Homo sapiens: one gene and its partners. The protein of the gene in region 3 interacts with the protein of the main gene of each other region in a biochemical or structural test. Each region holds a gene or a part of one and is shown on either strand. Other genes may lie near its edges. The genes, in order: CCRL2, EVI5 and PDZRN4.

Region 1 (3,754 bases), on a different chromosome or scaffold from region 3:
ATGTTCTGGACCAAGCGTAGGCTCTGAGCAAATGCTACCAGGGCTGGAGAATCAGTTCTGCCACTTCCTAGTTATGTGATCTTAGACAAATTTCCGCGCCTTAGTTTTCTTCTCAGAGAAATGAGACTAGTCCTATCCACACTATGGACAAGTGGTAGGAGGCGAAGGAGCTCACGTTTGTAAAGAGCCTTGCACGGTGCCTGAGACAAATTCAGTGCTTAGCAAATGTTAGCTCACCTCTCCCTTTTCTTCCTGTATCCGATTTTGTATACAAATGTGTAGAAAATTTACATGAAATAATGCAGAAAGATGAAAATCCATGTTTATTCTTCTTGCATTTGGTGGATGCTAGTTTACACTTCGGTGGAATGGTCAGGTTCTTCCCTCGATGTGCCTTGTGCAGACTGCCCCCTGGGTTGAAGTGGGGTGTTACTACGCAGATGGAAACAGCGGCAGAGGTATTTGCTAAATGTCCCATCAAGAAACGCATACAGGAGAGGGTTGATGCAGCAGTGGGTGGTGGCGATGAGTTTAGTGATGTGAACACTTTTGTCCAGATTGTAGCTGCTCTTGCAGTCACTCAGGGAGAAGTGTTCTTTGAAAGTGGACAGGAAAAATGCAATATTGTAGGGCGCCCACATCAGAAGGAAGACTACCATTATGGCAAAAACAAGCTTGAAAAGGCTATACCTCTGCTCCCTGAACCTTAGTGTTTTTCTCATTTGCACATAGAGAAATGTAAAAATAAATAGGGGGAGGACAAGAACCGAAATGTTCATTTTTAAAGTCAGAAAATGCTTCCAGAATGTCTCATCAGCTGGCAGGAAGGGAGTTCTGCTAAATGCACACTTGTATTTCTGGTCTTCCATCTGAGGTTTATAAACCACGAATTCAGGCAAAGTGGCCAGAATGGCTGTTACCCATGCCAGGACACTTGTAATGATGCCACAGGGCACCCTCCTCCTGGCTGAGAAAAAGTTTCCCTTGTGCAAAAACACTAGGTACCTTTGCACAGTCAGAAGGCAATTGAAAAATGTCTCACTGTACAGGCCCACGAAGTACAGTCCAATGAGAATTTTACACATGGGATCGCCCCCAGCATGAGCCCAGAAGGGCAGGGTAAGCAAGAAACACAAGTTAGAAACTGCCAAGTTTAGAAGATAGATATTTTCCACGCGTTTGAGTCCTTTATATTTTACCAGGATAAGCACAACCAGGAGATTGTCCAGGACACCGATCACAAACACAGCAGAGCAGAGTGATGGCACCAGCTGGGCTGAGAGTGCCTGGGCGTCATACTTGTCACATTGCTCTGCCTCATCGCTCTCCAGTTCACCTTCTATGAGGACATCATATTCATCCTCTGGTGCCAGCGTGTAATTGGCCATCTTCAGACTGCCCTGTGGAGAAATGGGAGATGATTTTCCCCTCCGACAGCTGCCTTATCCTGGAGGAAACAACAAACTGGACCTGGATTCATACAGCCCCACTTTCCCTTTCTGGAGCTACATTTTAGCCAGAGTAATTCCCTATTTCAGAAGACTGAAATAAACATTTCTTTAACGTGTGCCCACTTCCCCAGAGCAGCACCATTCCCAATCTAGTTGTTAAGCATGTAAGTGCTTAGCAGTGTGCCAGGTGCCACGGGAAATAAAGCTGGCATGACACCGCCTTGGTAGAACTTACCTTCTTTTAGCAGAAACAGGACTTGCCTACATGAACACAATATGTAAGAAAATATATAATTAAAGAGAACCAAGTACGATGGCTTACTTTTAAGAAACGGGTGTAGATCATAATTTCTGCATTTTAAAAAGTTTGCTCACCCCCCGAAGCAGCTTCCTGTGACAGCTGAGACGTTTTTCTCTCGAAGGGTATAAATAAATGTTTGCAAAAGTGAAACCATGCTCAGCATCAACATGGCCATAAGGGGTTAAATACATAGATGACACACAGATGACTTACCACTGGGCTGAGCTCCTGCAGGGGAAGGGCGCAGCCTCCAGACCCAGCATCCGGGAGCTGTGGGAATGGCCCCGGACAGTGGATGCCCTCCTTTTGATCAGACTGCTCCTGACCCTGAGGGGCACGAGAAACCACTGTTGATTCCCCTGGTGGCTCTACCCGCCCCACTCACCGAGCTCAGGGACCAACTGAAATAAAGTACTCAAAAGCTCCCCCAGGCCTCCAGAGGATCTCTGAAGCGTCTGAAAGCAACCGGGAAGTTGTTTCCTCCTCCCTCTGGCCCTGTACCCCGCCTTTGATTTCCCTGTGACCTTTGACAGCCGTCTTCTGGCCTTCTGAGATAAGGGAACTGTGTCACTGCCGCTCTGAGTGGTAGCAAGGAAGTGATGTCAAGGTGCTGAGAACTGCCAAGACGCTCTGGCTTGTGGCATGTGACACTCTGAGTAGGTAACAGGTACCAGCTACTGTCAGCAGGGAGGAAGGTATGTGGTGACCACGAGTCCAGACCTGAGGGTCCTGACCCTCTAATGCGGCCTCTCACCAGTGTTCGCAGAAACCCACCCGCTGATTCAATACGGGGACCAGGAACCTGCCATGACAGTCACGGTGTGTTTGGGTTTTTATTGTCATTTTTGAGGGGCACTGTGTGCTTTGGTTAAGACTGAGGCCTCAAAAGAGAATTTTAGGAAAATGGAAGCCACAGGGTGATGTCAGCTGGGAAAAGGCCAGGGGCAGAGGTGGGGTCTCAGCGGCAGTGAGCATAGGGCTGCCCTGGGTGTCAACACTGAGGAAAGCAAAGGGGTTTGCAAGCAGCCAGAAGTGATTGGTGCTGTGACTCATGGGGGAGCTGACCCCACTCGGAAAAGGAGAACCCAGAGGAGGAAAATCCCGTGGTGATGACACAGAGGCGACATCAAGTTGGGTGGGAGAGAATGTGAGGAGGACAAGTTTAACCCCAAACTGAGGCTGGGGGCTAGGGTAGGTTTGAGTCCAGAGAGAAGGAAATTGAGAGAACAGCCCAGATTTGGAATGGTGGGAGGAGGCTGTGGGGAGGGGAGGCTGTGGGAAGAGAGTGGGACGGGGAGGGCACGGTCTGGAAGAAGGACGAACCGAGAAGAGGAACTTGAAAATAATGAAAAAATCTAGATGAGCTTCTCTTGGGTCAACGACTCAGCAGCTGTGACTAACCTAATTTGGGGATCAGACCTATTTGCTTAGAATTTATATATTGATTAAATGACATCCTTTTCCCACCAAAGATGTGTCTGAGGTAGGATTGAATACAAAATTTGTACCTGTCAAAATAGAAATAGAAAATTAAGAAACTAGCCTGGCACTGAGGCGCATTCCTACAGCCCCAGCTACTCAGAAGTATGAGGTGGGAGGGTCGCTTGAGCCCAGGAGTTTGAGGCCAGCCTGGGCAACATAGTGAGATCCCGGATCTATAAACAATATAAAAATTAGCCAGATGCAGTGGCAAGTGCCTGTAATCCCAGACATTCCAGAGGCCAAGGTGGGATGTTCACGTGAGCCCAGGAGTTGGAGGCTGCGGTGAGCCATGATCATGCCACTCTGCACTCTGGCCTGGGTGGCAGAGCGAGACACTGTCTCTGGAAAAAAAAAAGAAGAAGGAGGAGGAGGGGCGGGGAGAGGAAGGGAGGAGAGAGAACTATTAAGAGAAAAATAAACACAGAAAGAGCCCAGACAAATATGTGATTGAGCATTAAATTTAACTCCACGTGTGCCGACAGACAAGGCAGAAAGAGAAACACAATGATGTTTGATGGCA
Region 2 (3,654 bases), on a different chromosome or scaffold from region 3:
ATATGTACAAACAAAACAGTATGTCTGTAGTTAACCTACTACTCTAGTAACCAACACATGGAAGCATCATATGCACATAAAAGTTAAACATTAAAACAAAACTTAAAACTCTCAAAACAGATAATCATGAATTTGTGTTTATAAAATTATATAGAATAAAGGCTTTGTGTGTGGGGACTTTCAGTGGCCCACCAATAATTTTCATGAAAAAATAAAAATAGAAAAAAAAAACCTCCCAGACACAAACAGACAAGGTAGGCTGGGTGCAGTGGCTCACACCTGTAATCCCAGCACTTTGGGAGGCTGAGGCGGGTGGATCACTTGAGGTTAGGAGTTCGAGACCAGCCCAGCCAACATGGTGAAACCCCATCTCTACTAAAAATACAAAAAATTAGCCAGGCGTGGTGGTGCGCACATATAGTCCCAGGTACTCGGGAGGCTGAGGCAGGAAAATTGCTTGAACCTGGGAGGCGGAGGTTGCAGTGAGCTAAGATCACACCACAGCACTCCAGCCTGGGTGACAGACTGAATCTCTGTCTTAAAAAAAAAAACAACAATAAAAAAAAAAACACAAGGTAAATCAGATGTATGTCTTGGTCAAATGTCTGTAGACAGCCACCTTGAGAACAAATTGATAAACATAAATACACAATTTGCTCACTGAGCATAAAATATTGCACAAGAGCAGTTTTGTCTGAAGAAAATTCAATTTTCCATAGTTTTGAACTTCAGAATGGTTCCCACATATAGATATAGTTGCATTTTCTAAACAAGAAACATTAATATTCAGTAATACTGTTAGAACCTTGTTTTACACATTAACCATATACCAGTCTACTTTATGGCAATGGTAAATCAGTGGTAAAGATTTGGCAAAGATAAAAAGGCAGATAAGACTGTAAAATATATATATATATATATATATATATATATATATATATATATATATATATATATATGTACATATGAAACAAATTATTTCCAAAAAGCCCTAATCATATGATAACTGATCCCTTAAATAAATCCATAGTCTAGGTCACAGTGATGGTCAGACAGTGGTTGAATACGACTCTCTTCTTCTCGGGGGCCGCTCCTTTTGAACCACTTGGTTGCTCTCTCTGGTCTCCAGCACACTGTCTTCTGTTTCGCTCTCACTACCATCTGCCACTGCGGGGTCCAAAGACATCGAACCAGATTTTCCGTGCAAAGGAAAACCAACACCAGTTTCCTGTAAGGAATTATCTATAAAATCTTCATCGGAGGAATGGAATGATTCATCATCTCCTATTAAATGGTTGACAATGTGGATTCCATCAAAAGGAGGTTGGCCTGAGAAGCCCCTCTGGCCTTTTAGGCACCTGAGCTGTTAAAACAAAATCCAAGTTAATACAGTCAAATGGGGGAAACACACACACGCCAAAAAGCAAACATTCCATGTTTAAGGAAGAAGATGCCTTATTATTTTTCTATTTACAGGTATAATCATAGTTACTAATTTTTGAGTGCCTTCTATGTGTTATATATAATGGGCTCATAATTATTTTTATTTTATTTTTTTTGAGACAGGTCTCAGTCTCACTTTGTCACCCAGGCTGGAGTGCAGTGGTGCGATCTCGGCTCACTGCAACCTCCGCCTCCCAGGCTTAAGCGATTCTCCCACCTCAGCCTCCTGAGTAGCTGGGACTACAGGCGTGTGTCACCATGCCTGGCTAATTTTTTTGTATTTTTTGTAGACACGGGGTTTCACCATGTTGCCCAGGCTGGTCTCAAACTCCTGGGCTCAAGCAATCTGCCTGCCTCAGTCTCCCAAAGTGTTGGGATTACAGGTGTGAGCCACCACACCTGGCCTGTAACTTACTTTAATTGAATAATAACAACCGTCCTATGTGATAGATTTTAGTATTTACTTTTCTCATTCTACAGATTAGGAAATGGAGACTCAGGAAGAGTAACTTGCTAAGGACATATATAGCTAGTAGCAAAGTTTAGATTCAAACTAAATCTTCATTATACTAGAGATAATATAATGGACTCCATGTACCCATCACCTAATTTCAACAAGTAACACCCATCATGGACAATCTTTTTACATTACACACCTCTTGTTCCTGGATAATTTTGAGGTAAACCCCAGACATCCTATCAGTTTATCTGTAAATATTTTGCTGGTATTTCTAGAAGGTATGAACTTAAAAACCATACTATCACACACACTATCTTGAGAGAATGTCTCCATAGTTCTGTAAATGATGAAAATGATTTATAAATCATTAAAACTTTGCTAAGAGTCTCCATCCTGTTATAATAGCCCAAAGGCCAGCATATCACCGTCACTTACTGTGGGAGAGGAATGCTGCTTCCCACTCATGAGGTTTCCTTCTGCATGGGGGGAGTGCCAGTCCGGTATAACATTTCTGCCTTCTCTCCCCAACTCCCCCTGGGGAGAAGGTGAGGCTTCTCTTAGTGGGGAGGAGGAGAGAGGAATGGTATGCCTCACTCATCTCTTTTCCCTTTCTTCCCATCTTTTAGAATGAGGCTCTAGTCCTCAATCCCTGGAGTTTTATAGTACAAGACCCTCACATAAGGAGGCTTAAGGAGGTCAAAAGCTACCTGTTACTGGGTGGGCAAGTCTGACTAATTCTAGAGTTTAGTATTGAAAAAATTGTGCCACATTTAAATCTAAACCACATTTTCCAAAACCAGTTTTATCAGAATTAAAACTGATTTATTTTCATCATCTGCCACTTCTTTGCTCAAGTTTCCTCAAACTCCCAAATCCACAACCATGACAGTACCAGTTCTACTCACATACAATTAAGTCATCAGCTCTGCCCTCAAGAGTTTATGTTTTAAAGTTTGATTTTGACATTCTGTCACTTATTTCATTTCTCTCATGCACCATGAATTTTCTCCTACAATAAAGTGGAAGAGTAAAAAACCAAAACCAAAAACAAGAATTAGCTACCAAATATCTACTCTGACTATTAAGAATCTTGCTAAAATATGCTCCACGTCTCCTACCCTCATCCTTGTTTCTCAGGGACAAACTCCTAGTCACAATCTTTCAATTCTTTAGATAAAGGCAATGTGAAATATTCAGGAAATATTACATACACTTTCAAAACTAACGGTCCTGAGAATAAAGACATTACAGCCTCACCATAATACCTCCCAGCTTTCCTGAAAGACTTCCAGGAAGAAGTGAAGAAACCTCAGCACTTCCCTGCTTGTATATGACAACAAGAATCAGCAGGGATGCAGGGACTCAGAACAATGATGTCTGGCCCAAGCAGACCTTCAACTATATTCCTGTGCCCTAGACCAAGTGGACAAATTTATAGTGAGGTACAACGTAATTTAAATAATACCATTCTCCTTGGCAGAACAGAGGGATCTATACTTGGAGTTGAATCTTTAGGAAAAGGGCATATAGCACCACAAAGGCCTCCTCAAGGTTATGATACCCACTGCATTGTTACAACTGCCACGTTCTGATGCAACATCCTATCGCAATATTGCAACACACAATTTATAGCTCCAAGTGTTAAATTAAGTCAGTTAATCTCTTCCTTTCTCTTTTTCCCCCAGACCTTTTTGAAGAAATCATATGGAACATGTGTCTTCCTTCTTCCTGGCTGTTATAAAGGAGGAGTA
Region 3 (3,654 bases):
TCCTCAACAGAGATTTATCATCCTTTTTTGAAATGTTATAATAATTAATCCTTTAATAATCAAGCAAGTGACATCATAGTTCATGGGAAACACAGGTTATTAAAACAGAGGTATTCATTAACACATTTGAAAACTTCAGGCATTTTATTCTTTCATCACAATATCTAACGAATTATATAGAATCATAATAGAGTTTTACTTCTTTTTGGAGGCAGCGTCTTGCTCTGTTGCCTAGGCTAGAGAGCAGTGGCCTACACACAGCTCACCACAGCCTTGACCTCCTGGGTTTAACATCGAGTGATCCACCCACCTCAGCCTCCTGAGTAGCTGGGACCATAGGTATGTGCCACCATGCCCAGCTAATTTTTTTGTTTTGTTTTTTGGTAGAGATGAAGTCTCACAATGTTGCCCAGTCAGGTCTCGAACTCCTAAGCTCACGTGATGCTCCTGCCTCAGCCACCAAAAGTGCTGGGATTATAGGCATGAGCCACCTCTCCCAGTGACTTTTACATTTTTTGTAAGAAAGTAAAAATGATAATGCCTTTACTGCTACTAAGAATGTATATTCTAATAAGCACCACACCAAGGTAAAGTGGTAAATTTGAAAACTTAAAATATCCCAATCTTTCTTGCATGGATCATATACATGTTTTATCATTGTCTTACCTCCATGATTTTGTCATGAATCTCCAGGCCATCTGCTCTGTCAGCAGGTCCATTTTCTAAAATTTTTGAAACGTAAATTCCTTCAGTCGATGTTCCTTCCTGATTATTCTATTTTTAAAAAATCATTAGCAGAAGAAAGATGTAAGCAAAATTTAAATATTATTAGGGACAATTTACCAAATGTAACATTACCAATCCTCTGTAAACCTGCAACTCTCTTAGCTGGGGATTTGGAACAGAATTTTAACTTACTTAACACCAACTAGTCATTAATCAAGGTGGCAGTTTTAATGAATGAGTCCAGGGTCTCTGACAAGATTATCTATTTACTTCACATTTTTGAGTTCACATAAAAAAGCTATGGGAAAGGGCATGTACAAGGTGAAATAAACTGGCTTTTAAGTATTATTTATAAAACATCTCACTTCTAAAGAGAGACAGCAAGTAAAAGGGTGATAAGGTTAAAGAAGGAAAAAAACATATATCTGGTTCCCACTGTATAACTGGTTTGAGATGTGGTAGAGTTTAGAAATGTAATTTAGCTTTTTGATGTGCCAGATTTAGAAACATAGCTCTAGTTGTGTCTATTCACAAGAGACACTGGTAGCTTACTCAAGTGTAAAATCCCAAAAGATCACATCTAAACTGCAAGGGAACCTATGCAAAAGGGAACCCATGCAAACTCATCGTTACATATTTCCAGGTGCAGTCTGACTCATGATTAGTTAAACCTCAAACATAGCCAATATGGTAAAAATAGGACATTTTAGCCAGTCACAAGAAGTCAAAGCTTATTTAGGGGAAAATATCCAACATCCTATAATAATACATTATATAATTTTAAATGTCATTTGACTTCATGACAGGTTAAATAAAATTATTTCTCTTTAGCTGTCCTTATCATGAATTTTAAGAGACTTTTTAAAAAGGCCCGATGTCATCTAAATGTCAAATACCAAAATAGAATCTATAAAAATATTCCTTAGGGAAAATGATAACGAAAATGCTATGATGAAAAGGCTTTCATCTTAATAAATGAGGACTGTTTTAAAAAGAGAAGCACAGCAGTCATTAGTTGCTAAGTTTTCAAAATACTAAAAACAAGGAAGAAATATGTCACTGCCATCCTTACCTAAACAGAGCATATGGCCAACAACACTAAGACAGTTTCCTTGTACAACATCTGCAATGCAGGATGCAAAAATTTCATGGCAGTTTATTGAGAAAAATTAAAGAACATCATTTTTTAAAACTTAACCACCTTTTTCCAGTTACGGTGAAAATTAAGTTGACACAGGAATTCAAAGATATAAAAGAACTTTGCAACTACAGTATATTCTATAAGTTTAAAATATGCATTTTGAAAACAATTGACATCAACATGAAGAATATTATTCATGCAATCAAACAAAGAACTCGGTTTGGGGAGCCAAAAATATTTCTAATCAACTGTTTTTCTTTAACATGGTACTTCCTATTGAAATCAATCATCCCTTGTTTCAACTGTTCATTCATTCATTCAATATAATTTTCTTCCTAGTCTGTATTAGCATCTTCAAACTGAGTAATTGCACTTAATAAATAGGTTTAAGCAGGCAATACAATTGCCTAATATTATCAAATAGAAATTGCCTACACATGGTATTGTGAAATAGGTTTATTCAAGAAATTTGCCAAAAGGACAATAAAATTTAGATAAAATGTGAAATGTACTTTCCTTTTCTTCTTTTAAAGTAGCAAAGAGAACCAAGTTTGCTAGCTGTTGTTTTTTGTTTTTCTCAAAAATAAAGGCCAGGTGCAGTGGCTCAAGCCTGTAATCCCAGCACTTTGGGAGGTGAGGGAGGTGGATCACTTGAGATTAGGAGTTCGAGACCAGCTTTGCCAACATTTTGTATTTTCTCTGCTACAAATACAAAAATTAGCTGGGCGTGGTGGCACACGCCTATAATCCCAGCTACTTGGGTGGTTGAGGCAGGAGAATCAATTGAACCAGAGGCAGTGGTTGCATTGAGCTGAGATCACGCTACTGCACTCCAGCCTGGGCTGCAGAGTGATACTCCAACTCAAAAAGAAAATAATTTTTAAAAATTAAAAAATAATAAAATCAGAGCCAGGCATGGTGGCTCACACCTGTAATCCTAGCACTTTGGGAGACCGTGAGGTGGATCACTTGGGGTGAGGAGTTCAAAACGAGCCTGGCCAACATGTGAAACCCTGTCTCTACTAAAAATACAAAAAATTAGCCGGGTGTGGTGGCAGGAGCCTGTAATCCCAGCTATTTGGGAGGCTGAGGCAGGAGAATTGCTTGAACCCAGGAGGAAGAGGTTGCAGTGAGCTGAGATCGTGCCACTGCACTCTAGCCTGGGCAACAGAGCAAGACTCTGTCTCAAACAAACAAACAAAATAAATAAATAAATAAATAAATAAATAAATAAATAAATAAAATCTGGGTATGTACTGGAATATTTGCATTAAGAAATCTGATATTTGATCACAAGTATAATTTTAAAGATTAAACCACTTGTTTTTCTTACTCAAAATCCACAAACAAAAGCTAAGTCCTCTATTATTTTATAAGCAATGAGTAATGCTTATTAATGCTTATTTTATAAGTAACGAGTAATGCATTAACAAGGTGTTTTACCTGATTTGGTCGACCTCCTATAATATTGAATCCCAAAGTGTCATTTTCTCTTTCTAACACAATAGTGAATGGCTTATGCTCTCCATCCTAGAAAAAAATGTATAAAATGACTTAACCAGGTAAAAATATAAAAGAAAAATAAATCCTACAATAAGTTTTTATGTACTGTAAGTTAACTGACATGTGAAAAGAGGAAAACTTTAAAATTAAGGATGGTTGAATGTGGCAGAAGGTTGACATTTTCCTATACTTACTTTGCAAGTATGTATTTGAAAAAGAACAACTGTGCATGTGAGGGGAAAAAGCCCTATTTTCAAAAATTACTAAATGGCTTTGCATTTTGA

What was found.
Region 1: the proteins of PDZRN4 (region 3) and CCRL2 interact in a test that uses a peptide from one of them, tested with the Homo sapiens proteins (one large-scale study listed by IntAct).
Region 2: the proteins of PDZRN4 (region 3) and EVI5 interact in a test that uses a peptide from one of them, tested with the Homo sapiens proteins (one large-scale study listed by IntAct).

The regions. Positions count from the first base shown.
Region 1 is NC_000003.12:46,405,714-46,409,467, reverse strand, and holds the start of CCRL2 (C-C chemokine receptor-like 2), read right to left. Parts: upstream 2,210-3,754; 5' UTR 1,966-2,209; intron 1,854-1,965; exon of another isoform or gene 1,798-1,853; coding exon of another isoform or gene 1,774-1,797; intron 1,401-1,773; coding exon of another isoform or gene 1,389-1,400; coding exon 354-1,388; 3' UTR 1-353. UniProt on the Homo sapiens protein: Receptor for CCL19 and chemerin/RARRES2.
Region 2 is NC_000001.11:92,512,608-92,516,261, forward strand, and holds part of EVI5 (ecotropic viral integration site 5 protein homolog), read right to left. Parts: intron 2,438-3,654; coding exon of another isoform or gene 2,339-2,437; intron 1,364-2,338; coding exon 1,049-1,363; 3' UTR 1-1,048. UniProt on the Homo sapiens protein: Functions as a regulator of cell cycle progression by stabilizing the FBXO5 protein and promoting cyclin-A accumulation during interphase. May play a role in cytokinesis.
Region 3 is NC_000012.12:41,191,201-41,194,854, reverse strand, and holds part of PDZRN4 (PDZ domain-containing RING finger protein 4), read right to left. Parts: intron 3,398-3,654; coding exon 3,311-3,397; intron 775-3,310; coding exon 667-774; intron 1-666.